Linked DNA regions of Homo sapiens. The protein of the gene in region 6 interacts with the protein of the main gene of each other region in a pairwise test. Each region holds a gene or a part of one and is shown on either strand. Other genes may lie near its edges. The genes, in order: ANKRD36B, SCML1, UBE2R2, PRPF38A, KHDRBS2, SDCBP and THG1L.

Region 1 (4,179 bases), on a different chromosome or scaffold from region 6:
GAAGTGAGTTCACTCAGGCTTCCTCAGCAGAAACCCCAAAATTACCTAAATAACTTCTTCCTTCCCCTCTTTCTTGCCTTGCAATCCCTCTCTTGATGAAAATAATTACTACATCAGTGGTCACCTTGCTCCTCATTCTCCAGTGTTTATGGGTTATTATGACAACTTCCTCCCTCTGGTTTAAGCAGTACCATCTGACATCTATAATTTCTATTACTTTTTTCTCTTTCTCCTTCCCCTTTCCATAGAAACATGCTCTGAAATAAGAGCAAAATTATGCTGTCCCCGGATCCTCTTATCTCTTATGTCTTGAACTGTTTTCCAACGGTTCTTCTACACAATTTCAATGTAGGGAAGTCTATAAGCTTGTTACTAAGATCATGGCCAAGGACCAGCAGCATCAACAACACCTGACAACTCAGTAGAAATGCACAATCTCAGGCCTGCTGAATCAGAAAGTGCATTTTCAATGAGCCCCCTGCTGATCTATTCAGGGGTGGGACGTTGTCTTCTATCTTGAGTGCACATGACATTAAATGTATATTGCCAAATTACCTGTTCCAGATTTCCCACCGCCCGTTATTCTTGTGGCAATATTCAAAAGAGAAACTTTCTTTTTAAATATAACCTGAATGGAAAGAGAAACAAAATAGTCAATACATAATATATATTTCATAGGCTATGCAATAAATAATTCAAAATATAAATGAAAGAGTAACTACCTTCTGGGCCGATTGTTTCTGAGGAGACACTGAAAAGTAAAAGAAATATATAATCCATCATATGTAAATATGATAAAGTTATCCACACATTCATGCAGTGTTAGCATCAAGCTGTATCCTCCTGCCTGTACTAGTGTAGGATTTGATGTTTTACAGTTTGTGTCTTTGGGACAGGAACATGAGGAAATATGCTGAAGAAAATAGGAATACACGCTTCCAGAAAATATTCAGTCAGAAATTACAAAGAGGTATTTTGCGTCATGTGTGTATTACTGAAATAAAAAGTGTCAATATCAATGTGGATATGCTGAATGATGAAAAGAAATGTGATCTAAAATCAGAGGAGCAACTCATACACCCAGGAACCAATGTCAAAGAAGGTACTAAATGCTACTGCATGTTTTTCATGCAAGACATCAGAAGGATTTATACCACTGTACTGCAAGTATTCATCATGCTCTTTAACTTGCCTGGTAATTGAGCAGGTACACAATGACAATGACACTTTAATAGAATGTACACTTCACAAGTCCTCAGTGGAAGTGTCGCAGCTTCATCAGCTTGGATATAGGTTGGGATAATCCTGTATACAATATTCTTTATTTCTCAAACCCATGTGGTGTAATAATGTGCCTACATTTGTTGTGTCCTCTAGTTTAGGCTACAGAAAGGTTCTTCATCCACTCATGGCAACAAAGTATAATATATAAACCATATCAAAAAGTATAATAAATGATCAAATGACAAACTTATACAAAATAAAGTTGCTACAAGCATTAGATATGAATAACCTTTTACATTTGGAAATCACTACAATATTCATTGAAAATAACAATTTTAAAAGTCAATTAATGAATTCAAATTAATTTTGTTTCTAAAATAGTCTGGTTTGAAGTATCATGTTACTCTCTAAAGCATTTTCATTAAATTGCTATTTTATCCAAAGTTAGCTAATTGAAAAGCCAATATATGCATATTCATGTTTATTTCATTTGAATAACTAATATCAACAAAACATATATCTCTGACACCCAAGAGTAACAAAGAGGAGCAATGAGTCACTGTGGTTTATCCCAATTCTAGGAGTCCTTCCTGCTTCCACTGGTTCCTAAAGCAGTCAAAATCAAATCTTCTTTTAGGAAAATATTCGAATATGCATCTGAACACAAGTTTCCTCAGAAGAAACAACAAAATTACCTAAATAACTTCTTATTTTCCCTCCTTTCTGCCTGACAATCCCTCTTCCTTGAGGAAAGTAATTGCTACATCAGCGGTCTCGTTAGTTCTCATTCTACAGTGTTTATGGGTTATTGTGATCACTTTTCCATCTGTTTTTAGGAACGCGATGTGATATCTGTAAAATCTATACTTCATCTCTATCTCCTACCACCCTTGGTGAAAACATGCTGTAGAATTAAAGCAAAATTATGCTGTCCCCTGAGCCCCTTATGTCTTGACATGGTCTCCAATGTTTCTTCTTCCCAATTTCAATGTGGGGAAGTCTATAATCTTACTTCGAAGATCACGTCCAAGACCAGCAGCATCAGCGTCACCCGAGAACTTATTACAAATGAAGAATCTCAGGTCTGCAGAATCGGAATGTGCAGCTGCGACGAACCCCCCCGCTGATTTATTTGGGGAAGAGAAGTTCTTTTCTATCTGGACTGAACATGACATTAAATGTGTTTTGTAAAATTACCTGTCCCAGATTTTTCTCCATCCTTTATTTCTCTGGCTATATTCGAAACAGAATCTTTCTCATCACCTGTAGTCTGAATGGAATTTGAAACAAAATAATAAATAAATAAAGTATGTTTCATAGACTATACAATTACTAGTTCACAATATAAATAAGAGTTTAATTACCTTCAAGGCTGGTCGTCTCTGAGAAGACACTGAAAAGCAAAAGGGATACATAATCACCCACATGCACGTATGATAAAGTTATTCATACATTCATGCAGTGTTAGCATCAAGCTGTATCCTTCTGCCTGTACTAGGGTAGGATTTGATGTTTCCTACTTTGTGTCTGGGGATTGGAACATGACAGAAATACACTGAAAAAAAGTAATACAGCCTTCATGAAAAATATACTTACAATTTCAAGCATGGTATGATTTGTCATATGTCTAAAACTAAAATAAAACCGTGTCAATATCAACGTGGATATGCTGAGTGATGAGGACAAATGTGATCTAAAATCAGAGGATCAACTCATACACCTGAGAATCAATGTCAAAGTAGGTGGTACTTGATCCCACAGGTCTTTCATGCAAGAAATCAAAAGGATTTACACCATTATACTACAGACATTCATCATGCTCTTTAACTTGCCCGATAACAGAGAAGGTACACAATTACAATGACACTTCAGTTGAATGTACACTTCACGTCTCTTCAGTAGAAGTGTCCTAAATTGATCACCTTGGATATCTGTTTGCTGAAACTGAGTAGATAATATTTATTATTCCTCAAACCCACGTGGTGTAATAATTTGCCTAAGTTTCTTGTATCCACTCGTTTAGCTTTCCAAAAGTTTCTTCATCCATTCATGGCACCAAAGGATAATATATTAGCCTCAATAAAAATATCATCAATTATCAATTTTGACATACTTCTACAAAGTAAAACTGCTACAAGCGTTAGATATTAATATGTTTTACATTCACAAATCACTCCAATATTCATTGAAAATGACCACTTTAGGAGTTAATTAGAATTCCACATACTTTTTGTTTCTAAAATAGTCTTGTTGGGAGTATCATGCTATTCTCTAAAGAAGTTTCATCCAATAGCTATTTTACCCAAGAGTTAGCTCCTTGAACAACGAAGCCAATGTATTCATATTCAAGTTTATCTCATTTTTATAACTAAAATCAACAAAACATGTATCTCTGATGCCTAATAGTAGCAAAGAAGAGTAATGAGTCAGTGTGCTTTATCCCAATTCTAGCATTGTTTCCTGCTTCCAGTAGTTCTTGGAGAAGCCAAAATTTAGTGTTCTTTTATGCAAATATTCCAAATTTATCTGAAGTGAGTTCACTCAGCTTTCCTCAACAGAAACCCCAAAATTACATAAATAACTTCTTCTTTTCTCTCCTTCCTGCCTCACAATCCCTCTTCCTTGTGGAAAATAATTGCTACTTCAGTGATCTTGTTCGTTCTCATTCTATGCTGTTTTTGAGGTATTAGGATGACGTTTCCCTCTGTTTATAACAATATAATCTGACGCCTATAATATCTATTACTTCATCTCTTTCTCCTTCCCCTCTTGATGGAAACTTGCTGTAGAATTAAAGCAAAATGATGCTGTCCCCTGAGGCTGTTATGTGCTAAACCACTCTCCTATGGTTATTCTTCCTAATTTCAATGTAGGGAAGTCTACAATCTTACTACTCAGATCATGGTCAAGGACCAGCACCATCAGGGTCACCCGAGGACTTATTACAAATGAAGA
Region 2 (4,179 bases), on a different chromosome or scaffold from region 6:
CAAATATGGCAAAAGATCTGTCACTTGGGTAAAATTAGGTTAATCTAACCTAACCTATGACTCTCTTCAAGTATTTCAAGGAATTTCTCTCTTAATCTATCTAGATTAGGTTAATTTTACTAGCAAAATATAATGGAAATTCTCCAAATTTACAGTTTTATAATTGCTTAAATTTGTTCCTTTTAATCAATGAATCTCAATAACAACCCCATTATCTTTAAGAACCAAATTAGTACTTTTATCAAATCTTCCCCACGTATTCAATAAGGTTATTTTTAGTATCGCTTTACTTTTTAGATTCCTGTCTCTCGTGGCTTAAGTGCTAATGTGCATTGTGAAGAAAACAAGATTATTTTCTGCTGAACTAGGTCAGAAGTAACTAACATTTTATTTAATTCCTCTTTCATGTTTAATTGCATAGTAATAGAGATTTTGGTCAAAGGTTTATATGTTTAAAAAATAACTGAGATATGAGACAGTTTAACTGCTCATACTTCAGAAAGTTTTAGCTATGCTCTACACTAAGTTGTGTTGAAATTTCTTTGTGTACTGACAAGTATCCTTTTACTCACCCACAGTGTTAGACTCCCTAAAATTAGTGTGTGATGACTAAAGTGGGTTTTGTAATTAGTTAGGAAAATTTGTTTCTCCAACCAGGACCATCAACACAATTTGATCTTTTTGTGTGTGTGAATTAGCCAAAAACATACCCTTTCTTCCCTACCATCTGGGCTCTTGCCATATCAGGAGTGTTTTTTATTTATCTAGGGAAAGGGTAAATAAAAATAGAAGATTTGGAAAAGCACAATGGGGCAGAGTTCTAGAAGTGCTACTCACCAGCTCTGTGATCGTGGGGATGGCGTAATAAATGTGCCAAAACCATGGGGTCATTATGAGTATAAGTGGAGAAGAGGCATGTCAGCTGATTGGTGCAGTGCCTTGCACATAATATGCATTGAATAAATGTTAGTCATCATTCTGAATATCACCTAAAACCAGCCCTCAAAATAGGAAACGAACAGCTTCCACTAGTTTGCATCAAGGATGTTGATAAATATAGGTCAAATAGTGCTACTTGTAAATATGGCATTTCAAACTCACCAAACCAGAAGGGAAGCAGAGAGATGATCCAGTATACCTATTCTCCATCAAAGCTGAGTAACTCATCATCTCAGGGGCATGTACCAAATTGGGCTCTCCCTGGGCCAGCATACCTGAAGGTGGTGCTGCAGAAGCATGGTCAGTTGAGTAAGTGTTGTGGATGCTGTCAGCCCGAGGGTTGCCAAGGCAGAGCCCTGAAGAAGAACCATACGTTGCACCATCAGATGCATAATACGGCTGACAATTATGCTCAGAGAAATCTGAGGGATGCACTGGACTCGGAGTGCGGCTGAGGATCGGGTCCTCCTCCAGCTCAGCTCGCTGGTATTCTTCCATGCAAAAGGATGGCCTTGGAAGGTTGCTCGGGGAATTATTCTCACGCCTTGACACTGGTAAAGTGGGGCTGTAACTTTCAGGGTAGGAGAATGTCTCGTAAACCTCATTTTTCTTCATTTTCTGGAGTTTAAGCTTTTTAACAAGCCGGTAAGAATGCTTTTTATATCCATATCGCTTCTGAAATCACACAAACACAGCATAAACCAACAGTGAGTAAAAAAGTAAATAAAATTAGTAGCAAATACATTAATACTTATTTTCCATGCAACATTGCTTTACATTATTAAAAATAAATGGTCCCTTTTGATTATATAATTCTTCAATCCTACATTTTAATTGTATTTTACACATTATAATTACAAACATAAAAATAGGCAGCATCATAAATTATCAAACCTAAACTTCAGCGTTCTCCCAACAGAGTTTAGTCTCCATCTACTGTTACAAGTATAGACATGCCTTGCTAATCTCACACAGATACTGGTACTCTCTCACTTCTAGCTCATTGGCATCTTTACAAACCAGAGGTTTATCACAGTTGTAAAAATGTTTTTTATAACACTTACATGATTTGTCCACAGGGATCTCGCATGGAAACGTTGGATTTTTGAAACCTTTCTACGAATCACATCAATCTTCTTATCCAGGTTTTGCAGAGCATCATATATAACCTATTATAATACAATGTAGTCATATAATTGGTATACAATGTAAAATATAATTTTTTATTTCAAAGAAAAGTAACGTGAAAATACCATTAAGTCAAATGTTAACTGCTAGACACAACAAAAGTTCTCAAGCCATCAGAAATGTCTTGCTCCTATTCAAGGCCTGGCTGTAGGTGACACAGAGCCAACAGGCTGAGCTAGAGTAGTCCCCTCCCCTGCTCTACTCCATGTAGGAATTGAGGAAGCTCTAATGCTGGTGAATGAATGTCCCACAATGCCTCTATGCTAGCACATTGATGATGAAGACACTGCACATCAAGGAAGGTGCTATTTTAGGAAAGAAATCTGCTAAAAGAACAAAGACTCACTTTATGATATACATATGTAACATATATGTTCATATATGTACAAATATGAAGTCTATATTATATACAGACAGTGAGTGTTCCACTCCAGAAAGAACACTGAACCAAATATAACAGATGTGACTTTTGGCTTCAAAGTATTTTTAAATCACGCAGTCAGCAATTAATCTTACAAAACCGTTAAGTACACATCTCTTACGCGCCAATCGAACACATAGGAGACTGATAAAAGTCTGAGAATTCTTCTTGAAATACACAGAGACTTTGGGCAAAGAAAAATACACTTAAGCAAAGGGCCAGAAACATTGCAATCAAGCACATAGGAGGCTGATAAAAATCTGAGAATTCTTCTTGAAATACACAGAAACTTTGGGCAAAGAAAAATACACTTAAACAAAGGGCCAGAAACATTTCCTCATTCATTCATTCATTCATTCATTCACTCATTCAACTAAACCTTTATTGATGGCCTACCACCTGGCAGAACTACTTTGCTAGGTATTGAGAACATGGACCGAAAAAAAAAGCTCCTGGCCGGGTGCGGTGGCTCATGCCTGTAATCCCAGCACTTTGGGAGGCTAAGGCAGGTGAATCGCTTGAGCTCAGGAGTTGGAGACAAGCCTAGGCAACATGGCGAAACCCCCGTCTCTACCAAAAATACACAAAATCAGCCAAGCGTGGTGGTGCATGCCTGTAGTCCATGCTACTAGGAAGGCTGAGGTGGGAGAATCACCTGAGCCTGGGAAGTTGTGGCTGCAGTGAGCCATGACTGAGCCACTGCACTCCAGCCTGTCCTAGAGGAACTACCATCTCAGCTGGGAGAGAGACAAGTAAAAAGAGGATTCCAGCAGACAAAGTGATAAACAGCCTGGAACAGTGGTTTGCAAAGTGTGGTCCACGGACTGGTAGCATCAACATCACCTGTAAGCTCATCAGAAATGCCAAATGCCAGGTTGTACCCCAGACCTATGGAACCTGGAACTCTGAGAGTGGGGGCAGTGGTCTATGTTTTCACAAGCCCCCCAGGTGATTCTGATGGCCCTAGTGAGAACCACAGGGCTGCGGCACTGAGATAAACAGTGCAGGCTCTTGGGGAACATGGTTGGGGTCAAATACTACAGTCCAGCCACTTATTGGCTGTGTGACCCAGGGCAAGTTACTTAACCTCTCTGTGCTTCAGTGTCCTCATGTAGGGAATCAGGATGAAAAGCTCTCTCAGGGTTCTCTCGAGGACGAGAACCTTGCTATAGTATTAGGTTAATACTAACAGTAACAGCACTACACTACACCCGGTCCAACAGTGCTCAGTGGTCTCTTCATGTTACTATTGTTATTACCAGTGGCGTGACACAGGTGGGAACAGGAGGCTAAGCCTGCACAGAAAAGCAGTCCTAACCCAGGCTGCAGTCACGGAGACCTTTTCAGAGGAGGTGAGGTCTGAAGTGAGAATTAAAACATGAGAAGGCCCTCGCCAGGTGAGGATGCATGGAAGGGCTTACAGCATAGAAGGAACAGCAGGTTCATAAATACCCAGAGAGAAAAACAGGAAGCCAGGTGTGGAGACAGCAAGTATGAATGACATTCCAGGAGTGGGGCTGTCACAGGAAGAAGAGAGTGAGGATGACAGGAAAGGAGGGATGGGAAGCAAGAGAAGTGGCTTCTCCAAGATGTGGGAGAACTCGTAGAGGGGAAGGAGGGACAGGGACTGG
Region 3 (4,179 bases), on a different chromosome or scaffold from region 6:
AGCAAGCTACCGAGCCTTTAGTGAACACCAGTTGGCTGATTCTCTGCATCCCTAAAATTCTTCCTTTTCAGGTTGGCTAACTCTCACTACTCACCAGATCTGATAATACAGACTGACTTAGACTCTTGAAGGTAACTGGAGTCCCTTATTCTTCAAGTTACAAAAGTGCTCCATTTGCCACTTTATGTTATAAATATGTCCATTGAGGTGCTGAACAATAGTCTTGAGTACACGTGGTTATGGAGAAGAAAACCAAATACGTGAATATGGAATCACTTTCAGATGCCAGTGAGAGGCAGCAGATAAGACTCCAAAACAGGATGAGATGAACCCTATGCCATCTCCACTGCTGTCTTACTACAGCCACCCATAAACTGGACATGGAGCCCAGAACCCTTAGACAGTTGCTGGCCCTAGATAATTTAGCAGCAGAGAGGTACAAGAAGGAAAATAGTTGCCCATTTCCACTACATCTTGTATCTTCCCTCTTAATATTTCAGTGCCATAAATGACCTGTTAGAAAATATAACAGTTTACTACTTTAAAACCTCCCTTGTCTCACAACCAAGTGAACACAGAAACAAAAGGGATAAGCGAAAGTATTCCACATCTGCTCATTAGGTAGTGCTTTCCTGACTTCCGCTCAGAGTTCTGAGCACCACCAGGTATTCCAGACAGGTGAGGTTCCAAAAAGTGTACAAAACATCCCACAGCCCCCGAAAACACCAATAAGATCAAAATGTTGAAGGACTACCCAATGATTACATAGAACTAAGTGATAAAAAGTCTAAGAAGGTAAACAATTTCCAACCCAAATACCTTGTAGAGCTGTGTGAAGATGTTAGGTGTAACTCCACATAACTAGTTGTAGTTGGGAAGCTTCTAAACAAAGCAGCATAAAAGCAGGGAAAACAATCTTGATTTGAGTATGGGGAATGTCCCTAAATTGTGGCTCAGGTGGCCTGGGGACTCAAGTGTGAGGAAACAAAATGATGCTAGTACCCAAAGTAACAAAGGCAGTTTCAGATGGGCAGATAAGTATAAAAGGAATCCTCTGCCTCCAAAAGACTGGATTACATGAGAAGTAGGCCTATTTTAAAAGAAAAAATGTTCATAATACTTTAAGCTGAGATAAGGCAAATGACATCATTTGCGTGTAAATGCAAGAGAAGTAAAGGATAAAAAGCCTGAATTCCCATGGGTGGTGGCAATACATTATCCAGCCAAGCAGCATAAAAATGCAATGAGGAAAATCTTGTTTGGGGCTTTGTATTTGAGGAAAGGGGAAGCTTATTTTCTCAAATAGGGAGAGGGTGTAAGCATTTGATTCAACGTTCAACCAGCAAAACCAAGAATCACCAGTATTATAGCTACCACTTCCTCTAATCTAGGGTTATTACTCGTCCTGAAAATCCATGCACCAGAATCATTATTAAAGTACAACTGGGGATTTTTTTGGATGCAATTTTTTCAACAAATCATCCAAAATATTTTTTAAAAACTTTTATACACATTGTCTAATTATAATGTCAAAATAATGTGCTACAATTACTTCTGAAGACGTAGCACCCTCAAACATACTCTTGAGTAATATAGAATACATAAAACTCAGACTTTTTTTTTTTTTGAGACAGCGTTTCACTCTTGTTGCCCAGGCTGGAGTGCAGTGGCACGATCCTGGCTCACCGCAACCTCCGCCTCCCAGGTTCAAGCAATTCTCCTGCCTCAGCCTCCCGAGTAGCTGGGATTACAGGCAGGTGCCACCATGCCCAGCTAATTTTGTATTTTTAGTAGAGACAGGGTTTCTTCATGTTGGTCAGGCTAGTCTTGAACTCCCGACCTCAGGTGATCTGCCCACCTTGGCCTCCCAAAGTGCTGGGATTACAGGCGTGAGCCACTGCGCCCGGCCTACAACTCAGAATTTTTAATACTAATTTAAAATTGAGTCTATCGAGATAATTCATGTATACATAATTTGCTACGTAGGACACTTTTCCCCTCAAAAAAAGAAAGCGTATTCTCAATTACAGAATATCTCAAAAACAGCTCAAAACAATTATTTTAGTTCTTTTCATGTATTTAGAACCCAAGATAAATTATGTACTACTTGAACTGGTTACGATACAGGCATCTAGCAATTATGTCTCCCTGTAGCAAAATGAAATAAATATGAGGAACTAAGAAATGTGTTTCTCTTCTAATAGATAGCAAATGACTGCTTCACATTAGACCCAAAAAATTCCTTGAAAATAATAGCTGCAACCCAAGCCAGCCAGGTAATATCCACCATTCTAGTAGGTTTACATGCATTATTCACTTAAATTCTATCAACAACCTACTGAGGTAGGTATTATTCTTGTATAGATAAGAGATTCAGAAGGCGGGTGTAGTGTGAGCACCTGTAATCCCAACACTTTGGGAGGCTGAGGCAGGGGCATCACTTGAGCCCATGGGTTTCAGACCAGCCTGGGCAACATGGTGAGACCCCATCTTTACAAAAAACTTAAAAATTAGTCCAGGTGCTTTGGGGCACACCTATAATCTGAGCATTCTGGGAGGCCAAGTGGATTGCTTGAGCCCAGTAGTTTGAGACTGGCCTGGGAAACAAAGCAAAACCCCATCTCTCTACAAAAAAAATACAAAATCTTGAGCAGACACCGTGATGCATGCCTGTGGTCCCAGCTACCCAAGAGACTAAAGTGGAAGGATTGCTCAAGCCCGGGAGGTTGAGGCTGTGCTGAGCCGTGACCGCGCCGCTTCATTCCAGCCTGGGCGACAGAGCAAGATCCTGTCTTAAAAAAAAAAAAAAAAAAAGAAATATGAGAAAAAAACATTCAGAGGGATGATGGTTGTCAAGGTGAGGTGTAAAAACACATTTATTTGAATTTAGAAAGAAAGTAACATTTTTTGTCTTAAAAAATATATTGGTAAGATATGCTGAAATCTTTAATATATCTATTTTCTCAACTCTTTCTAAATAAATTGGATGGAACAAGGTACCCAAAGGAATGAGTAACAAACATAATCAACAGTCATTTGACACATCTTGAAGAGCTTCTATTACAAGTCAGGAAGCTTCCAATTCTTCACTTTTGATAAACCTGGAGATTCTAATCAAGTTATTAGTTTTTGTATCAGTAAAAATGTTTAACAAATGATTGAATAAACAAATAAAGGGGAAGAATAGATCAATCCATGCAGAAGAATTCAAAATAATTTATATAGATACCCTGGCTTCAAGGAGGTATAGCCACCCTCTCCTTAGTTGTGGGCTATGCATATTCCTTCCAAGGAGTACAGAATGAAAAGTTCAGGAAAGAGCAACTTTACAGTGGAGAAAAGCTAAAAATATTATTTCAGGCAGGTGATGAAAGGTATCCCATCAACAGGGATAAGCCACACTGATAGTAAATACTTCAGATATGACATAATGAAAATGGCACATTACTTCTCTGGTCTTTCTCTCCCAAACCTATAACCCTAGACTAATCATGAGAAAACACATAAGAAAAATCTCAACTGGGGGACATTGCACAAAATACCTGATCAGTACCCCCCAAAATTGTCATCAAAAACAAGAAAATTTATAATCAAGAGTTGCTTAATAGCTAGGTATGGTGGCATACACCTATAGTCACAGCTACTTGGGAGGCTGAGGTGAAAGGCTCACTTGAGCCCAGGAGGTCGAGGCTGCAGTGACCTGTGATCACACCGCTGCACACCAGTCTGGGTGACGGGAAGACACTGTCTCAAAGACAAGAGACAGAGACACAGACAGAAACAGAGAGAGAGAGAGAGACAGAGACAGAGAGAGAGAGGAGTTGCCCATGAAGACATGACTATTAAATATAATGTGATGAGCAGGGCACAGTGGCTCATGCCTATAATCCCAGCGCTTTGGGAGGCCAAGTGGGGAGGACTGCTTGAGGCCAGGAGTTTGAGACCAGCTGGGCAACTTAGTGAGACCCCATCTCTACAAAAAATTTAAATACATATATGTATACACGTACATATATAGATATATATTTATATGTATGAAATATTTTGGAGCAAAACAACGACAGGTAAAAACAAAGGAAATGTGAAAGCGTATGGACTTCAGTTACTTATAATGAATTAACATTGTTTATTAACTGCAACCAATGAATGACACTAATGTTAGGTGGTAATAAAGAACCA
Region 4 (4,179 bases), on a different chromosome or scaffold from region 6:
ACATATAACACCAATACCACCACCCCCTCCCCAAAGCCCTATCCTTCATCACAAATGACTGAAGGCCTACCTTCTCCTTTTGGGAGATCGACTCCGCCTATAAAGAGGAGAGGAAGAAGAAAGCCTAGGTTGGCGCACTGGATGTGGTAGATTGCAAAAACGGCCCCAATCTTATCCTTCACGCTTCTCTGTATCACCCACCTCTGTATCCATGTCTTTTGTCACGTAACTCTAGCACCCTCCCATTCTAACTTTAGGACTGGTGACATGACTCGCTTTGGCTAATGAGATATTTGCAAATGTGATAAAAGCAGATACTGGAAAAACATTTGCATGACCGGGTTTGTTTGCTCTTGAGTTCTGCCACTACCATGAGAATATGCCCAACTTAGCCTGCTAGAGGATGACACAGAGAAGAGAAATTTCCCCCGTCATCCAAGCTAAGGCAATTCCATACCAGCCAGTAGACAGCCGACAACAGAACAGGTACTTTAAAAACTGCCTATCCAAGCTCTGCTTAAATCATTGACTGCAGACTTGTGAAAGGAACAAATGGTTATTGTTGTCTGCCAATGAGGTTTTATAGGTGGTTGTTTTGCAGCAACAGATAACTAATATATTGGGCAAACATTCTCCATAGACGTGCATTTTTCCTTCTCTAAAATCCAAACTTCTAGGCTACAGTGCTCAAAATCTTCTGGGAAAAGGCCAATGACTAGGCTTTACCTTCTGGGAGACCGGCTCCTACTCCTCCTGTAGCGCAGTGTGGGAGAGCGACGGGGCTTGTCCAAGTCTCGGTAGCTTCTCCGGCGGTGATCAGGTGATGGCACTCTTTCCAACTGGAAACAAGATGATTGGGTCATTGAAAGGCACAGGCTTATAAAGAGCCATCTAGGAACACTAATTATACTTCACGCCCCATCTTGTCCCAAAGTCCATCTCCATGTGACTTTAAAGCACAGTAACCTGACTACAAAGAGGGAAGCACTTACCCTATTAACTAACAAAACTTATTATGAGCTATATAAGACAGCCAAAATGACTCATAGGAGAGGGAACAGAAACAGACCTGTGTGTGTGTATGTGTGTATGTTTAGTTTATCTGCAGCCTGGGCAACATGGTGAAATCCCATCTCTACAAAAAAAATACACAAATTAGCCAGGTATGCTGGCACGTGCCTGTAGTTCCAGCTACTTGGGAGGCTGAGATGGGAAGACTGCTTGAGCCTGGGAGGCCGAGAATGCAGTGAGCCACTGCACCTCAGCCTGGGCAACAGAGCAAGACCCTATCTCAAAAAAAAAAAAAGTTTGCTTCCTGGAACAACTGGGCAGCTTGGTTGTTTTCAACTTTTCAGCACCGTAACTAGTACTGAAAGAACATGACTATGCGGTTGACATTTTCCCCCTCCTAAACAAGGTTTATTCCTTAGGATAGGTGCAATTATGAAAGTGTTCTTTCTTTCCAAGTATTTAATAGCTGCCACCATTTATTAGGCAATTATAATGTGCCAATACTCTGCTAAGGGCTTTAAGTTTATAATCTTATTTAATACTTTTAACAGTCTTGGGGAAAAAAGTATCATTAACCTCACTTTACATAGGAGAAAACTAAATTTAAGTAATTTGCGTAAGATTATACTACTAGTATATGGCAGAGCTGAGGTGCTTTTAATAAGGAAATATTGTTTTTGGCTAGAGTTAGAAAAAAAATTTTTTTTGAGACGGAGTCTCACTTTTGCCCAAGCTGGAGTGCAGTGTTGCGATCTTGGCTCACTGCAACCTCTGCCTCCCGGGTTCAAGCAATTCTGCTGCCTCAGCCTCCTGGGTAGCTAGGATTACAGGCACCCACCACAACGCTGGCTAATTTTTGTATTTTTAGTAGAGACGAGGTTTCACCACCACGTTGGCCAGGCTGGTCTTGAACTCCTGACCGCTGGTCATCCACTCGCCTTGGCCTCCCAAAGTGCTATGATTACAGGCTTGAGCGACCACGCCCGGCCAATAGAGTTAAAAATTAAAGTCTAAAAACAAAAAACCATTCCCATTTTCTATTACTCCCTCCCCTACAACCATAAAAGTCTCAGGTGCCAGACCTTCTCATCCTCCTCTTCTTCCTCTTCACTGGACTCCACATCATCCATGTCCTCTTCCAGAGCACTAACTCGAGGCTCCAGTTGCTCAGCTTCCTCTAATACATAGCGTTTCTACAGAGAAAATGATGAGAGTTAGGGGTTGTTGCCATTTCCCCTATTTCTTGAAACCTCAACACTGGGCTTCAGGGTTCCAAGGAGCAACAGCTGAGGCAATTTCATTTCAAAGACAGTTCAAGATTTTCCTAACAAGTTTAATAGACCTGAAATCTATAAAGTTCTCCTATAAACATAAATACAAACCTGAAGAGAACATCTTCATTTTCTATTGACTCTATTCCCTGTACCTTATACTCTAAAGTCATGGGAATATCAATCAGTATAGGTACAGCCTAGAACCAAAAGTAAGGGCTTCACACACAGAGAAAATCCAAGGGCTAATAAGTTCATGGCTGGTAGTTCCACTAGAAGAGGCCTAGCCCTAGAGTAGTACCAAATCTCCAGTAGACCCAGGATCTCGGGAGCTGTTGATATTCATGCATTTTGAACTGGTTCCATTTTAATCTGGGATATGGCTTAGCAATGTTTATTTGAGTGGCTAAGGATCAGAGAGGCAAAGCTGATTTCAAAAATGCCAAATGGCTAAATGTAGTGGCATGTACCCGTGGTCCCAGCTCCTTGGGAGACTGAGGTAGGAAGATCCCTTGAGCCCAGGAGTTTAAGAACAGCCTGGGCAACACAGCAAGACATTGTCTTGCTATAAGAATTGGGCCCTCAAAGTAGGTTTTCAAATTTATAATCTCATTCTTTCCACTACATGCCCTACAGTGCCAACATGGAACAGGAGAGCTGTATCACACTCATTTCCTGAAAAGATGCCTCATGGATAATCGTTTATCACTAGGAAAGGGAAGCAGGATGGTGAAGGCAAGTTTAAGGAATTAATGGCTCAGTCTCCCACTCCTGGCCCTATTTTTATCTGTTTTATGTCCTGGCTTTTTACATGAAGATTAGTTTAAAAAAAACGTTCATGAAGTTAAAAACTCCCTACCTACTCTAGCTACAATACCCTTGATGTAACATCCTGAATAAATTTCTTTTTTCATGATAGACAGGTAATGTGCTGACTTTGTAACAAGGTTTGAGGGAGGCACAACTCACACATGCACCTGAACTACAAAAGGATGGAGAAAAACAAAGTTTCCTTGTTTTAAACCATTCACTTTTAAAGCCCTACCCTTCAAATATTTTATCTATTTTCCTCTCACTCCCAATCCACTATCTTGGGACTCCCAGACAGGAAGACTATTCATTAAGAGGACCCATAAGATCCACAGGCTTCAGTGTTTAAGCTGTGTGTATGTGTTTGTCTGTCTGCCCGTCTAGGAAGAGAAGGGTGACTCTGGTAACAGACTTTTATTTCTTACCTGTAGTCGGGGCAGAATGATATCACAGACTCTCTCACTGTGCAATAGTTCATCAATAAACTCATCAACATGCATCAATTCAAACTCTGCAAGAAAAAGTCATTAGAGCAAACAACCTGGAAATAAAAGATTTAGATGCCAAAAAGTAAAAGAAGTGTTAAGACTTCATATCAGGACATCTATGTGCTAGGCCTCTTTAGAAGAGATTAAGGGATGAATGAAGATGTCCCAATTAGCAGGAGACAAACACAAAAACAAGCACAAACAGTCCTGAATTATGTAGGGATGATCTTGAAGAGATCATATAACTTAAATATAATTTCTCATCTGAACCTTCAATGTTTCTGAATTTAGAACATGTATCTTATATGGCACATGGAGTGATAGCTTTTGAGAACTGGCTAGGAGTGGTGGCTCACGCCTGTAATCCCAGCACTTTGGGAGGCCAAGGCAGGCAGATCACTTGAGGTTAGGAGTTCAAGACAGGCCTGGCCAACATGGCGAAACCCCATCTCTACTAAAAACACAAAAATTAGCTGGGCATGGTGGTGGGCACATGTAATCCCAGCTACTCAAGAGGCTGAGGCAGGAGAATTATTTGAACCTGGGAGGCAGAGGTTGCAGTGACCTGAGACCACACCACTGCACTCCAGCCTGGGCAA
Region 5 (4,179 bases), on a different chromosome or scaffold from region 6:
CAGCCACACGGTCTTACAATACTCCCAAAGTTTATAATATAATCATATTATATTTGTTAAATATTTCTGAGTTTTATGCTAATCTTTGTCAAGTTCCAGAAATCTCTGAATACATGGCAATTCACCTTTTGTTTATAATTATTTCTCATTTGAAATCTGATCAAACTTCCTAAGGATAAGTTTGGTTCTTAAAATACAAGCTCTTTAACTAGCACTAACAGTGATGACACCTGTAAAATGAAACCTTTTCTCAAAATGCTCTCATTTAAATGCACTGCTTAAATTCTGTTGTAAATGACATTCGTTTCTGCAACAAACATTACCTGCTATATTCACGGTATATGAACAGTTTGAGACGTAGCTTGTTAACTAATCAATTTAACTCATCCTTACAACTTATTTCTTAAGAGTACTTACATATTCTTCATAAGCTTCATGGGCTGGAGGAGGAGGTGCCCTGTATCCTGGCACTGTTGGTGCCCCCCGGGCTCGAGGGGTAGGGACACCTCTTGCTACAGGTGGCACTGGAAGCGCTCCACGGGTTACAGTGCTTCCCCGAGGGGTGAGAACACCTCGTCCAGGTGGTGGGGGAGGAGGAATGGCACCCCCACGGCCCCTAAGAGAAACAAGTCATGTATAGATGAGAAACAGGTGATGAGAGAAAAGGGCCTATCACAGAAAAAGTTTTCATCTCACAGCCTCCATACAATGAAATAAATACAAATTTCTCTCTCTCTCTCTGTGTGTGTGTGTGTGTATGCATTTAATAGAAATTATATAAGATATAAAGTGTGTTGATATCTATAGAAGACAATAATTGTAAACACTGACTATGATTAGTTCTTATAAAAACCATGTAAAATACTTTGTTATTGTCTTTTATATAACTAAAAACCCAAAGCCAGAAAAAAAAAAAAAACCCAAACAAAAACCCACTCTGAATATAACCCCATTAAATTCCAAATTCTCGAAGAAGACACAAATCAGAGCATCGTCTGATATATGACTCACTGGACCATCTCTGAAACTGAGCGGTTTCAGATGTCTGCATCTCCTTTATGCTGGGGATTACAGATAGTGATGGACAATGCTGTCATTTACCAAAAAAAAAGGTGGCTGCACTTAAATAAAATGTGGGAATCTAACCATAGTGATATCATTCTGTTTACTATAGCTGCTTAAGTTTGAGATTACTTGAAATCACAACTCTTTGTCACTGATTTATCATCATGCCTGTAACCCCCTGAACTGGTGCAGTCCCTGACAGAATATATTTTCTTAACCATAACTATGGTGTTAGAGGAATACTTTAGTATCTGTAATAAAAATAACAGACTGAATACTCTGTATTGCAGTTCTTGATACAAAATTGACTTGCACTAAAAGTGTAAGATCAAATGGTTGTGGCCAATTTTTATGGCATTTTGAAGCCTTTAGAATGGTTGAGTGTTTGTCTGAAGTCTTTGGGCAAAAGAACAGTTATTTCACTTTTTATTTTGTCTGAAAGGTTGGCCTCTAGATAGCACTGCTTTCAGTGGGAACACTAAAGCTTTGGGGAAAAAAATGATGATCATTGAGATGTCAACAATCACAGTATTTGGCTGTAGGCACATATGGGGACATAGGTTATGCTGTCTGCTATGAATAGCAGTCAGATGGCTCTTTCTTGCTTAAAATAAAAGTGAGCATTTATAAGTGAAGGGTACGAATGCTGGCAAAACCTTTAAAATTTTTAAATAGATTACAGAGCTGATGAATAGAGAAATGATGAGAGAATTTATTGTGAGTCTAATGTATAAAGAATACTCTCCTAGATTGGGAGAAGGTGAAACACAAAGACCCAGAGGCCCAGTGCTGGCTGCAAGTACAACATGGCTAAGAATACAGTATTCTGTATTACCATGATAATACATAAAGGGATGTAAAAACCAATTTTGCCTTCACTGCTCCTCCAAGCACATTTCTGTTTCCTCATAAGCAAGATGAGCATATGTCCAGGTTTTATAACTGTTGTCCTAGCTTCCTGTTCAGTTTAGCATTTTAACACTCTCAAAAATATCCATGTGTGGGCAATAAATTATATGGTCACCCTACTCTATTCACGAGCCTTCGCTATACCCTTGAATAGTCATGGGTAAGTATTATAACTACCTAGGCTTAAGATAGATATTTTTTTTTCTAATGAGTAAAATGCAGATTTCTAAATTTATAGTACTTCCTTCTGCTCTAATATTATATGATGCTCATATCAAATCTAATTTTCCATTTTCTTCCTTCATCAACTGACTACCAGACACAGCCCTAGCAAACCTGCCTCCTGAACCTGACTCATTACCTCTTATCCACTATGTTCTTTCCCTGGAATATTAACCTCATTGTTCTCTCCTCCAATTTAATTCAAATCACTTTTTTTAGGATACTGCCCCTGGCTAAAACCACACCACAGTATCCTGTCGTTTATTTGTCTGACTTGCTGAAAGAATATTTTCTGTTTAATTCTTTACTTCCTCTACATTCCTGAACTGAATGTTATCAGTCTAGTTCTTGCTTTCACCCCTCTGTTGAAAATGCTCTTGGCTGAGATCACCAGTAGCCTACTGATTTCCAAATCCACTAGATTTCTTTACAGTCTCCATGCCACAGCACCTTTCTACTATTTTTAAGATTGTGGACTATTATCTGGAAAATGTTTCTTTGGACTTTTATGACTCTGCTTTTCTCTACTTTTCCTCATTCCTCCTTATTCGTTATCCTCCTTCACTGGCTTGTATTCCTGGACCCACTTTGGAATCTGGATGTCCCCAGTTTCTATCCTCGATCTCATGGTTGCACCCTGCAATCCCTACCTCTGATGATGGCTATAATCTGTTTTCTTCCTAACATAATGCCATATCTTGGCTTGTGTTCCTTATATCAGAAGTTTCTTAACTTGCCTGCATGTTAAAGTTACTTGAGGATCTTTTGAAAATTCCAAATTCCAGGCCATACCCTAGGCCAATTAAACCACAATCTCTGGAGACAGGGAGCTCCCAGTGATTCCAAAATACAGGCCAATTTGGGAACCACTGCCTTAAATGAATACTCCAATTTAAGCATCTTGACAAGCTTGTCATGTGGGCAGTTCTAAGTTTTTTAAAAATACATTGAGATATTAAGGCATGGAGAGAACAAGTCACCTGCCCAAGGTCACACCAGCAATCCACAGAGCTCAGATTATTTACAAGAATAATTATATTCTTCATTTAATTTGATCCTTCACCTACTCTTAGTTAATGATATCATCAATTTCTCACCAGGCTAGACACCAAAAATTTATCTTTCTCTTGGGGAACTCTTCTTCTCCAACGTTTAATTGGCATTAATTCATATAAATGTTAATCTCTAATCTGGCCCTATCCCTGTCTATTCCAAATGCTGCTCATTTTTATCTGCCTTGGATGATGGAATTGTTTTCTCATTGGCTCCCCTGCCATAAGACGGTTTCTCTGTCTCTGTCTCTCTCTCTCTCTCTCTCTCTCAATCACTGTAACTCTTCTGCATCAACCACAGTGATAATTGAGTAGTCTTTCGCATAAACAAATATGACTACTCTCCTCTTTAACAAACTCTATTAGTTCTATGTATTCGTTCTCAACGTGGTAAACAAAAGCCTTCAAAATTTACCCCGATGTTTCGTTTTTCAGTGACTGCACTCACTGCAACATATAGTGGTGATGTGTGTTAGAGATGTCATATATTTTCATTCATCAATTATGCAAAATAAATTATTATTACAATATATAGATGTAATGCTTTGTTCTCTGGTATACATTATTATTGGAAAATTAGAGTTATCATAGATAGGATTATTGAAATGTAAATTGTTTTAATTAAATACACTTTCAACAAATTATAGAGCTTAAAATATTCTAGACATCATCTTTTTGAATATAAGTGTAATTAAATAACTTCATAAAGTAATAATTTCATAACAATTCAAATTAGGAATTGTTAACTCATGTTATGCAAAGTTCTCTTATTAATAAGATTTTCTATTTTGTAAAGCTATTTTCTTTTTTTTTGTGGGCATTTGGTATGACCAATCTTTAATTTTCAAGCAATAACAAATATATAGTATCGAGCACTTACTAAATATCCGATACAGTTGTAAATGTCTTTACATGTAATACATTTAATGTT
Region 6 (4,179 bases):
TTCATTTTCATAGCAGAATAATATTCCATTGTATGTATACCACATTATATTTATGCTGTCATCAGCTGATGACATTTGGGTTATTTGCACTTTTGGCTATTATAAATAATGCTGTTAAAAATGCCAATGAGCATTTGCATTGTTAGCAAATAATATGTAAGTTTATATACTTTTTTAATAAATGCATCTTTAATTCTCTTGGAATATAGCTAAGCATGCAACTGCTGGGTCATATGGTAACTCTAATACCATCCCCTTGATGATTACAGGATTCAACATATGAATGGAGGGACACAGTCACAAACATTCAGACCATATCATAGACCACTATCATATATGATTTACAAATACTTTTCTTATTCTGTAGATTGTCTTTTCATTTTTTCTCACAGTGCATTTTGCAATATGAGGTTTTTAATTCTGACAAATTTGAATCTATATTTCTTCTTGGTTGCTTATGCTTTAGATATAACATCTAAGAAACTACTGCCCAACTCAAGGTTATGAAGACTTACCCTTATGTTTTCTTCAAAAAATGTTATGTCTTTAATTCCTGCATTTATATCTTTGATCTATTTTATGTTAATTTTGTACACGGTGTGTGGTATAGATCCATATTCATTATTATCCATGTGGAAACCCAGTTATTTCAGCACCATTTTTTGAAAATAACATTTTTGAATTGTCTTCGCATCGTTATTGAAAAGTGATCATAACTGTATGCACTTATTTCTGCAATCTCAATTCTATTTCACTGATCTATATGTCTATCCTTATACCAGTACCACACATTCTTGAGTACTGTACATTTGTATTAAGTTTTAAAATCAGTTAATGTGAATCCTCCCACTTTGTTCTTTTTCGAAATTGTTTTGGCTATTCTAAATCCCTATCAATTCAGTATCAGTTTTAGAATCAGTATATCCATTTCTGTAAAAAAATAAAAAGTATCCTTAAATCTGAAGTGAGTCTCTTATAAACTGGGTATAGCTGGCTCTTGGTTTTATTTTTTTAATCCATTCATCCCCTCTATGTCTTTTGATTGGAGAGTTTAGTACATTTAAAGTTATTACTGATAGGGAAGGACTTACAATGACATTTTGTTAATGATTTTCTATCTTGAAACTTTTTTGTCCTTCCTTTCCTCTCTTGCCATCATGCTTTTTGTTTCACTGTTTTTTTTTTTAATAGATATGCTTTGATTCCTTATTTGTGTGTGTGTATTTTCTATAGGTATTTTCTTTGTGGTTACCATGGAGTTTACATAAAACATCTTCTAATAAACCTATTTTAAGCTGATAATTTCAACTGCATACAATACTGCTTCTTCTCATCCATCCCCATACTGCATTACTGATGCTACAAATTTCATCTTTTATGTTGTGCATCTATTAATATTTTTATAGTTACAGGCACTTAAACTTTTGTCTTAGACTTATATATCAGAAATAAGTGATTTACTCACCACCATTACAATAATATGCAGGTCTCTATTTGTCCATAGCTTTATCATTTAATTTTATACTTTCATGTTGAACATACTTTTGTTTCCATTTAACAGACTCCCATTGGCGTTTAAGTCAGATATAGTGGTGATGAACTCTCTCAGATTTTGAGAATCTTATTTCTCTTTTACTTTTAAAGAAAAGTTTTGCCACATACAGTACTTTGCTGGCAGTTTTTCTTCCAGCAGTTTGACTATATCATCCCACTTCTTTCTGACCTGCAAGGTTTCTGCTAAGAAATCCACTTAGAGTCCCACAGAATCTCCTTTGTATATGACAAGTTGTTCTTATCCTGCTGCTTTCAAAATTCTTTGACAATTTGATTACAGTGTGTTTCCATGTAGATGTCTTCGGATTGTTCTACTCTGGAGTCCATTTGGCTTCTTGAATCTGGATGTCCACTGCCTTCCTTCAGTTTGGGAAGTTTTGGCCAGTATTTCTTCAAATAAGCTTTTTGCTCCTTTCTCTTTCCAACATATGGAACTTCCATACAATCTACATTGATAAAATTGATGCTGTCCCATTAGTACTCTAGGCTGTCTTCATTCTTTTTTTATTTTTTTTCTTTTTGCTTCTCTGACTGGATAATTTCAAATGACCTGGCTTCAAGTTCACTAATTCTTCTCCTTGAAAAACACTGCTGCTAAACTCCTCTAGTAAATCTTTCAATTTGGTCAAAGAAGCATATTGCATCTGTTACAATGTTTGTTTGGTTCCTTTTTACGTTTTCAATCTCTATGTTGATACCATTTTGTTCATGCAGCATTTTCCTTGGGTCACTGAACATGTTTATGGTGGTTAGTCTGAATTCCTTCTGAGATAATGAAGATATCTGTGTTTCCTTAAAGTAGGTTCCTGGATATTTTGACTCTTTGATTGTGCCATGTTTCCCTATTTCTTTGTGTGTCTTTTAACATCATGTTGGGATCCAAGCATTTGAAAAAATATCACCCCTCCCAGTCTTTGTGGTCTGGCTCTGTACAGAGAAAGATCCTCACTGATCGGCCTGACTAGAGATTCTGCATGCCTTTTGAACCTTTCCTGAGGATGCTTCTTCTCGACCAGTGTGTATAAATTCTCAAGATGAACTTGTTCGTTTCCTTTTTCAGGATCTCATAATCTTTTGCTCCCTGTGCTATCTGTCTGTGGTACTTCAGGTTCTCTGGAGCTGCTGCAAGCCACCCAGCTCTCTTGTTTTCAGAGGCCTCCAACCTGGTGCCCTTTCCCATCAGTGGGCTTTTAGAGTATGTCCACTCCTGCCTGTGCTCCAAGTCAGGTGAAACAGAAGCCAGTCCCTTGGGGGTAGCTCTCTGAAGTGCTGGAATGTTGGACACATACTCCACTATTCTCTCTCCAACACCTTTCATGCCACACGTAGGGACAAGCTGCTGAGCTGTATCATCCTCTGTCTGCCCTACCATAGGTCCTCTAGAGCAGCAACAAGTCTTCTGTTCTCAGTGGCTCCTGGGCACCTGGAATACACCAGCCCCTGTCAGCTTTCCAAGACAAGCAAGACAGAAGCCAGTCCCTCAGCCCACTGAAAAGGTGAAACACTGGACACACATTCCAACTCTTTTGTCTCCCCAAGGAGAAGCCAAGAGTTGAGGATTTTCTCCTGCTGGTTTCATGCTGAGGGAGGGGGAGGGACCATGGTGAGTGCCTGCTAATCTAAACTGTCAACTTTGTTTTCAATGACCCCGCAACCTGGTGCCCTTTCCTGTCAGAACTTATATTCAAGCAAAATAAAAACCAGACCCTTGGGCAGACCTCTGAAAAATCTGAATGTCACACAGATGTTTCAGTCTTCTCTTTCCCCGCCCAGGGAAAAACCAGGAGCCTGGAGTTTCCTCTTGCTCATGCCATGCTGAGCCAGGGGAATGAACTATGGTGAGCAAGTAGGATGAATTTTCCTACCATCTTCACTGCAGCTGGTTTACTGCTCACCTAGAATGCAGGAGCCTCTTAACTAGTTTCCGGATTTCTCACAAAGAGGTCTGGTGTGTGTATTGTTATTGAATCAGTATTTCTGTGGGGAGAAGAAGCATATGAGCTTTCTATTGCACCTTCTTGCTGCTATTACACATCTTTTGTTTCTTTTCTAATTTCTCTGGCTATAATCTCCAGTACAATGGTGAATAGTAGTGGCCTGGTACAGTCCTTAAGGGAAAAACAGAATCTGGGTTTGTGAGAAAAAAAAAAAAATTCACATTCTTGAGAGAGCACTATCAAATATGATTTAATTGTATTAATCCAGGAGAACAAAGTGAATTATCTTCTTTGGGTTCAAAGGATCAATTTCCTAGCAGCCTTTCCCTAAACACAATTTTTTGCCTTATTTAAACTTTCAGCCATTCTATCAATATAAACAAAATGCATATGATATATAATATACAAAATGCAAAGCAAGTTGCAATATCAACAACCAAAATGCACTGAAAAGAATGTTACCTGGCCATCTAATATTATTTCTATTTTTGATTTCTTTTTTTGATTCTGTCATTGGCTAACTTCAAAATCCCACTGTTCTCATGAAAAATGAAGTGGTTTCCTAACTTTTCTCTCCATAGAAGTTTCTCTTCAAATAAATATTAACTGAAGTTGTCTGAACAACTCTTGAGTTAATTCACACACCAGCAACTCAAGCCTAGAAGAAAAATGGACTTTCAAAATTTTT
Region 7 (4,715 bases), on a different chromosome or scaffold from region 6:
TTCACAGCAACAGAAACAAAGAAAAGATGCAGGATGTCATAATTTATGTCTTGGTCCTGCCACATATGTGACCTTATGTAAATTATTTTTTTCTCTTTGAGTCTCAGATTTCCCCTTTGTAAAGGTGAAATCCCAGTTCCTCTTTTGCATCCCTCTGATGTTACTCTGAGCATCAAAGGAGTGATGACTACCATTTGTGGTACTATTATGAGGATATACACACATACTGATATAGATCCCTGTATGGATACACAAAAAACTGGTAACAGTAACTGCCTAAAGTATGTTGTTAGGAGTCAGTGAGAGACTTTTTGCTACATATAAAAGGATTTATATTGTTTGAATATTTTTCTTTTTCTTTAGAGACAGATTCTTGCTCTGTCACCAAGGCTGGAGTGCAGTGGCTAATGATGGGTCACTGCAGTCTCGAACTCCTGGCCTCAAGTATCTTCCCACCTCATCCTCCCATAGCTAGGACTACGGGCATGGGCTACTAAGCCTGGATAATTTTTTTTCTTTTTTGTAGGAACAGGGGTCTTGCTACGTTGCCAAGGCTGGTATGAATCTCCTGAACTCAAGCAATCCTCCTGCCTCTGCCTCCCAAAGTGCTGGGATTACAGGCGTCAGCCACCGTGCCTGGCCTGAATATCTTTCTTGAGGATGGAAAAAAAAAAAAAGTAAGTAAGTAGGTAATGAATTTGAAAGAGCTTTGTAAATCACAAAGTATGACACAAATATTAGGATTTTATTTTTACTATTATCCACCAGCAACAAGATATCAAACACTGGTTCTGTGATTATTTAATGGTGAAAAAGTTGAATAAATCAATTTAGTATACCCATATGTTGGAATATTGAGTCCATTTTTCTTTTAAAAATCACACTTTGGAATAATTGATGATACTGGCAAATGCTCAAGCTGAGTGGAAAAATATATAAACATTGTATAGGCGAATAATTCCAATCTTGTGCATTCCCTGTGTAAACCTACATACACAAAAAGAAAAAAGACTGAAAGGAACCATCCACAATGCTTTGATGGGAAAGACGGAGAAACAAAGTGTTAATTTTCTTAACTATAGTTTTGGTGTATTCCAGATTTTCTACAAGTTAATAAATGCCACTAAGAAAAGGGGAAACATCACAGCTACACCTTCAAACACCAGAAAAAGAATTTTTTTTTTTTTTTTTTTTTTTAGGTTGGGGTATGATTTTGATCTGGGCACTAACGGGGACACTGATTGCTTTTGCCAGTAAGTCAAGACCAGCAGATAAAAAATAATTTTTAAAAACCTCGTGAGACTGATTTGCCGCAGGACGGGAGGAGGAAGAAGCAAGCGTGGAAGGTGCTAACGGAGGAACCTAAACCTCCATCCTCTTTGCCTGGGAGGTTAAGAACTACAGGGAGAGGCGAGAGAGACTATGACTGCCCTACGGCTAGAGTAGCCGCGAAGAGAACACTTCCGGGGCGGGGCTATCTGGCCCTTTCCTTTCCGCGTGTAGAATGTGGGGCGCCTGTAAAGTTAAGGTTCACGATTCCTTGGCCACCATTTCCATCACTCTGAGACGGTACCTGAGATTGGGGGCGACCATGGCAAAAAGCAAGTTCGAGTACGTGAGGGACTTCGAGGCTGACGACACCTGCCTGGCACACTGCTGGGTGGTAGTGCGGCTGGACGGCCGGAATTTCCATCGGTGAGCGAGCTCGACTCGGGGCGTCGCGATGCGCCAGCGCTTCCGGGGAATCCAGCTTCTTCCCTTGCAAGTCCTCCCGCCCGCTCCAGTCACGGTTACCAGGGTAACGCGGTAGCCAATGAGTGCGCAGCATGGAGCATTGCCCCGCCCTGCGTGTTGGCTAGGACAGTGCCTGAACGCTGGCTGTTAGCGTAATTGAATGGGCGATGTGCTCCCGTGATGAGGATCTGGCTTGGAGTGCCCGTGTTAAGTGAACAGAGACTTGTTAGCAAGGACCTGTTGTTAAAAGTCACTCTCATGCACAATATTTAAGCTCTTAAGCCAATTGCCTAGCTATTCTGTTAGATATCTTTGAATGCTGACTGTTCAGAAGTCTGTGTAAGCCTTGCTTGTGGGCAATACTTAACGTCTGTGCTTCATTATCAGTAACAGGCCACATGGACTAGATTCAACAGAGAGTCAGAAAAAAAGAGAAGGCTGGGCGCGGGAGGCAGGAGGATCACTTAAGGCCAGGAGTTGGAGACCAAGTTTTTGTTTTTGTTTTGTTTTTTCTGTGGTTGTTGTTTGTGAAACTCCGCCACTACAAAAAAAAAAAAAAAAAAAAAAAAAAAAAGAGAGAGAGAGAGAGAAAGAAGGAAGAGAGAAAGAAAGAAAAAGAAAAAATTTAATTTGCCCGGCGCAGTGGTGCACACATGTAGTTCCAGCTACTGGGAAGGCTGAGGTGGAAGGATCGCTTGAGCCTGGGAGGTCAAGGCTGCAGTGAGCGGTGATTGGACACTGCACTCCAGCTTGGGTGACAGAGCAAGACCCTGTCTCAGAAAAAGAGGGAGGGGGAGAAAGAAATATAACAGAAAGATGGGAATTTAATCTTTGAAGAGGGCTGCATTGTTAATGATTATTATAACTAACATTTATTGAGCACTTACTAGGAGCTAGGTATGATTACTTTTATCTTCTCCCTAATCTTCAGGACAACCCAATGAGGTAAATATTCTTTTATTCCCATTTCACAGAAAGGAGAGTTGAGGCTTAGCATTTCTGTCTGGCTTTCTCAATTTCAGGGCAGGAAAAAAACTAAGTTCTTAAGAAAATGGATCAGGTTGTGGCTAGTTGAGCATTTGAGTTCACAGTGCTATTACATTATCTTCCTCCAAACAGCCTCTGTTATCTAGCAACAGAGCGTGTTGTTAATGACAGGCTTCCATCCATGCTTTCTTCCCTTTTTCCCCTGTGAAGGTTTGCTGAGAAGCACAACTTTGCAAAACCCAATGACAGCCGTGCTCTCCAGCTGATGACCAAATGTGCGCAGACTGTGATGGAAGAACTAGAGGATATTGTGATCGCGTATGGACAGAGTGATGAGTACAGCTTTGTGTTCAAGCGGAAAACCAATTGGTTTAAAAGAAGAGCCAGGTAATTCCATGACCTAACTCCTTTCTTCAGAATATTTCCTCCCAGCATCTGGTTTTCTGTTTATCTTAATCGCAGACTTACAGGCTACAGATGATGTCTGCAGTATTTGTAACTGCAGAGTACATGTATATTTCCTGTTTAGATTGTTGTACTTCCATCTGATAGCCGAGCATTCTGTGTGCCTCTTTTATCTGATTCTTTCCCCACATGCCCCATAAGATTGGTTTCTAGACTGACCTGGCATTGAACATTAAGATTAGAAACAGAGACTATAAGAATGTAATATTAACAATTCATAGGTTGGCTTTAGCCAGTGATAGTCTCTACGTGCATTGCATTACACTGTTCCTCAAGACAGATCTCATTATAAAATACACAAATCTGATATTTGATTTGGCAGTATTTTGAAACGCTGTATGGGAAACAAATCATATAATGAATTGGTTTTTTCTTTCTTTCTTTTTTTAATAGAGGTGGGGTCTCTCTGTGTTGCCCAGGCTGGTCTCAAACTCCTGGCCTCAAGCAGTTCTCCTGTCTTGGCCTCTCGAAGTGCTAGGATTACAGACATGAGCCACCACGCCCAGCCTGAATTGGCATTTTTTTTACAACAATGGTTTCTCTCCTTTCATGACTGTAAACACAAACAGATCAGGCGTGGTGGCTCACGCCTGTAATCCCAACACTTTGAGAGGGTAAGGGAGAGGATTACTTGAGCCCAGAGGTTTGAGACCAGCCTGGGCAAGATGGTGAGACCTCATCTCTACAAAAAATTTAAAAATTAGCCGGGCTCAGTGGCATGTGCCTATAGTCACAGCTACTAAGGAGGTTGAGGCAGGAGGATCCATTGAGCCAAGGAATTTGAGGCAGCAGTGAGCTATGATTGTGCCAATCCACCCCAGCCTGAGGGACAGAGAGATTCCATCTTTTAAAAAATAAAATAAAATTTAAAAATACCCCTTGAATCATAAATTCGTATCACATCCTGTAGGGAAAGGTTTAGTATCAGTAGGTTACTTAATAGAACTGGAAGGAGAGGCAGGCTGCATTTAAAATACATAACTGGCCAGGTGTGATGACTCACGCCTGTAATCCCAGCACTTTGGGAGGCTGAGGCAGGCAGATGACTTGAGGTCAGAAGTTTGAGACTAGCCTGGCCAACATGGTGAAACCCCATCTCTACTGAAAATACAAAAATTAGCTGGGCGTAGTGGCCTGCACCTGTAATCCCAGCTACTCGGGAGTCTGAGGCAGGAGAATCACTTGAACCCAGGAGGCAGAAGTTGCAGTGAGCCAAGATGGTGCCATTGCACTCCAGCCCAGGCAACAGAGCAAGACTCTGTCCTAAAAAAAGAAAAAAAAATACAGAACCAAGGTATTAAAATAGTGTTTCTTAGCCAAATGCATTTTATCTCCTGGCTTTCTGGGCAGTTTGTGTACTCTCTGTGGTACCCACAGGTCTTATCATGGTGTTGAACTAATTCCGTGTATTTTTCTTTTTCTTACTCCACCCAATGTGCGTTACATTTTCAAGTAAGTTCATGACTCACGTGGCCTCCCAGTTTGCCTCCAGCTATGTGTTTTATTGGCGGGATTACTTTGAGGACCAG

What was found.
Region 1: the proteins of SDCBP (region 6) and ANKRD36B interact in binary tests that used the Homo sapiens proteins (3 or more experiments, as listed by UniProt).
Region 2: the proteins of SDCBP (region 6) and SCML1 interact in binary tests that used the Homo sapiens proteins (3 or more experiments, as listed by UniProt).
Region 3: the proteins of SDCBP (region 6) and UBE2R2 interact in binary tests that used the Homo sapiens proteins (3 or more experiments, as listed by UniProt).
Region 4: the proteins of SDCBP (region 6) and PRPF38A interact in binary tests that used the Homo sapiens proteins (3 or more experiments, as listed by UniProt).
Region 5: the proteins of SDCBP (region 6) and KHDRBS2 interact in binary tests that used the Homo sapiens proteins (3 or more experiments, as listed by UniProt).
Region 7: the proteins of SDCBP (region 6) and THG1L interact in binary tests that used the Homo sapiens proteins (3 or more experiments, as listed by UniProt).

Annotation. Positions count from the first base shown.
Region 1 is NC_000002.12:97,537,613-97,541,791, forward strand, and holds part of ANKRD36B (ankyrin repeat domain-containing protein 36B), read right to left. Parts: intron 2,618-4,179; coding exon 2,589-2,617; intron 2,495-2,588; coding exon 2,422-2,494; intron 752-2,421; coding exon 723-751; intron 629-722; coding exon 556-628; intron 1-555.
Region 2 is NC_000023.11:17,747,329-17,751,507, reverse strand, and holds part of SCML1 (sex comb on midleg-like protein 1), read right to left. Parts: intron 2,109-4,179; coding exon 2,004-2,108; intron 1,615-2,003; coding exon 1,215-1,614; intron 1-1,214. UniProt on the Homo sapiens protein: Putative Polycomb group (PcG) protein. PcG proteins act by forming multiprotein complexes, which are required to maintain the transcriptionally repressive state of homeotic genes throughout development.
Region 3 is NC_000009.12:33,900,548-33,904,726, reverse strand, and holds part of UBE2R2 (ubiquitin-conjugating enzyme E2 R2), read right to left. Parts: intron 1-4,179. UniProt on the Homo sapiens protein: E2 ubiquitin-conjugating enzyme that accepts ubiquitin from an E1 ubiquitin-activating protein, and catalyzes its covalent attachment to other proteins by an E3 ubiquitin-protein ligase complex.
Region 4 is NC_000001.11:52,410,539-52,414,717, reverse strand, and holds part of PRPF38A (pre-mRNA-splicing factor 38A), read right to left. Parts: intron 3,604-4,179; coding exon 3,518-3,603; intron 3,277-3,517; exon of another isoform or gene 3,196-3,276; intron 2,205-3,195; coding exon 2,094-2,204; intron 840-2,093; coding exon 727-839; intron 98-726; coding exon 71-97; intron 1-70. UniProt on the Homo sapiens protein: Involved in pre-mRNA splicing as a component of the spliceosome.
Region 5 is NC_000006.12:61,894,218-61,898,396, forward strand, and holds part of KHDRBS2 (KH domain-containing, RNA-binding, signal transduction-associated protein 2), read right to left. Parts: intron 617-4,179; coding exon 418-616; intron 1-417. UniProt on the Homo sapiens protein: RNA-binding protein that plays a role in the regulation of alternative splicing and influences mRNA splice site selection and exon inclusion. Binds both poly(A) and poly(U) homopolymers. Phosphorylation by PTK6 inhibits its RNA-binding ability.
Region 6 is NC_000008.11:58,559,082-58,563,260, reverse strand, and holds part of SDCBP (syntenin-1), read right to left. Parts: intron 2,978-4,179; exon of another isoform or gene 1,514-2,977; coding exon of another isoform or gene 1,466-1,513; intron 1-1,465. UniProt on the Homo sapiens protein: Multifunctional adapter protein involved in diverse array of functions including trafficking of transmembrane proteins, neuro and immunomodulation, exosome biogenesis, and tumorigenesis.
Region 7 is NC_000005.10:157,729,937-157,734,651, forward strand, and holds the start of THG1L (probable tRNA(His) guanylyltransferase), read left to right. Parts: upstream 1-1,483; 5' UTR 1,484-1,504; coding exon 1,505-1,695; intron 1,696-1,862; exon of another isoform or gene 1,863-2,073; intron 2,074-2,493; exon of another isoform or gene 2,494-2,674; coding exon of another isoform or gene 2,675-2,679; intron 2,680-2,931; coding exon 2,932-3,108; intron 3,109-4,639; coding exon 4,640-4,715. UniProt on the Homo sapiens protein: Adds a GMP to the 5'-end of tRNA(His) after transcription and RNase P cleavage. This step is essential for proper recognition of the tRNA and for the fidelity of protein synthesis.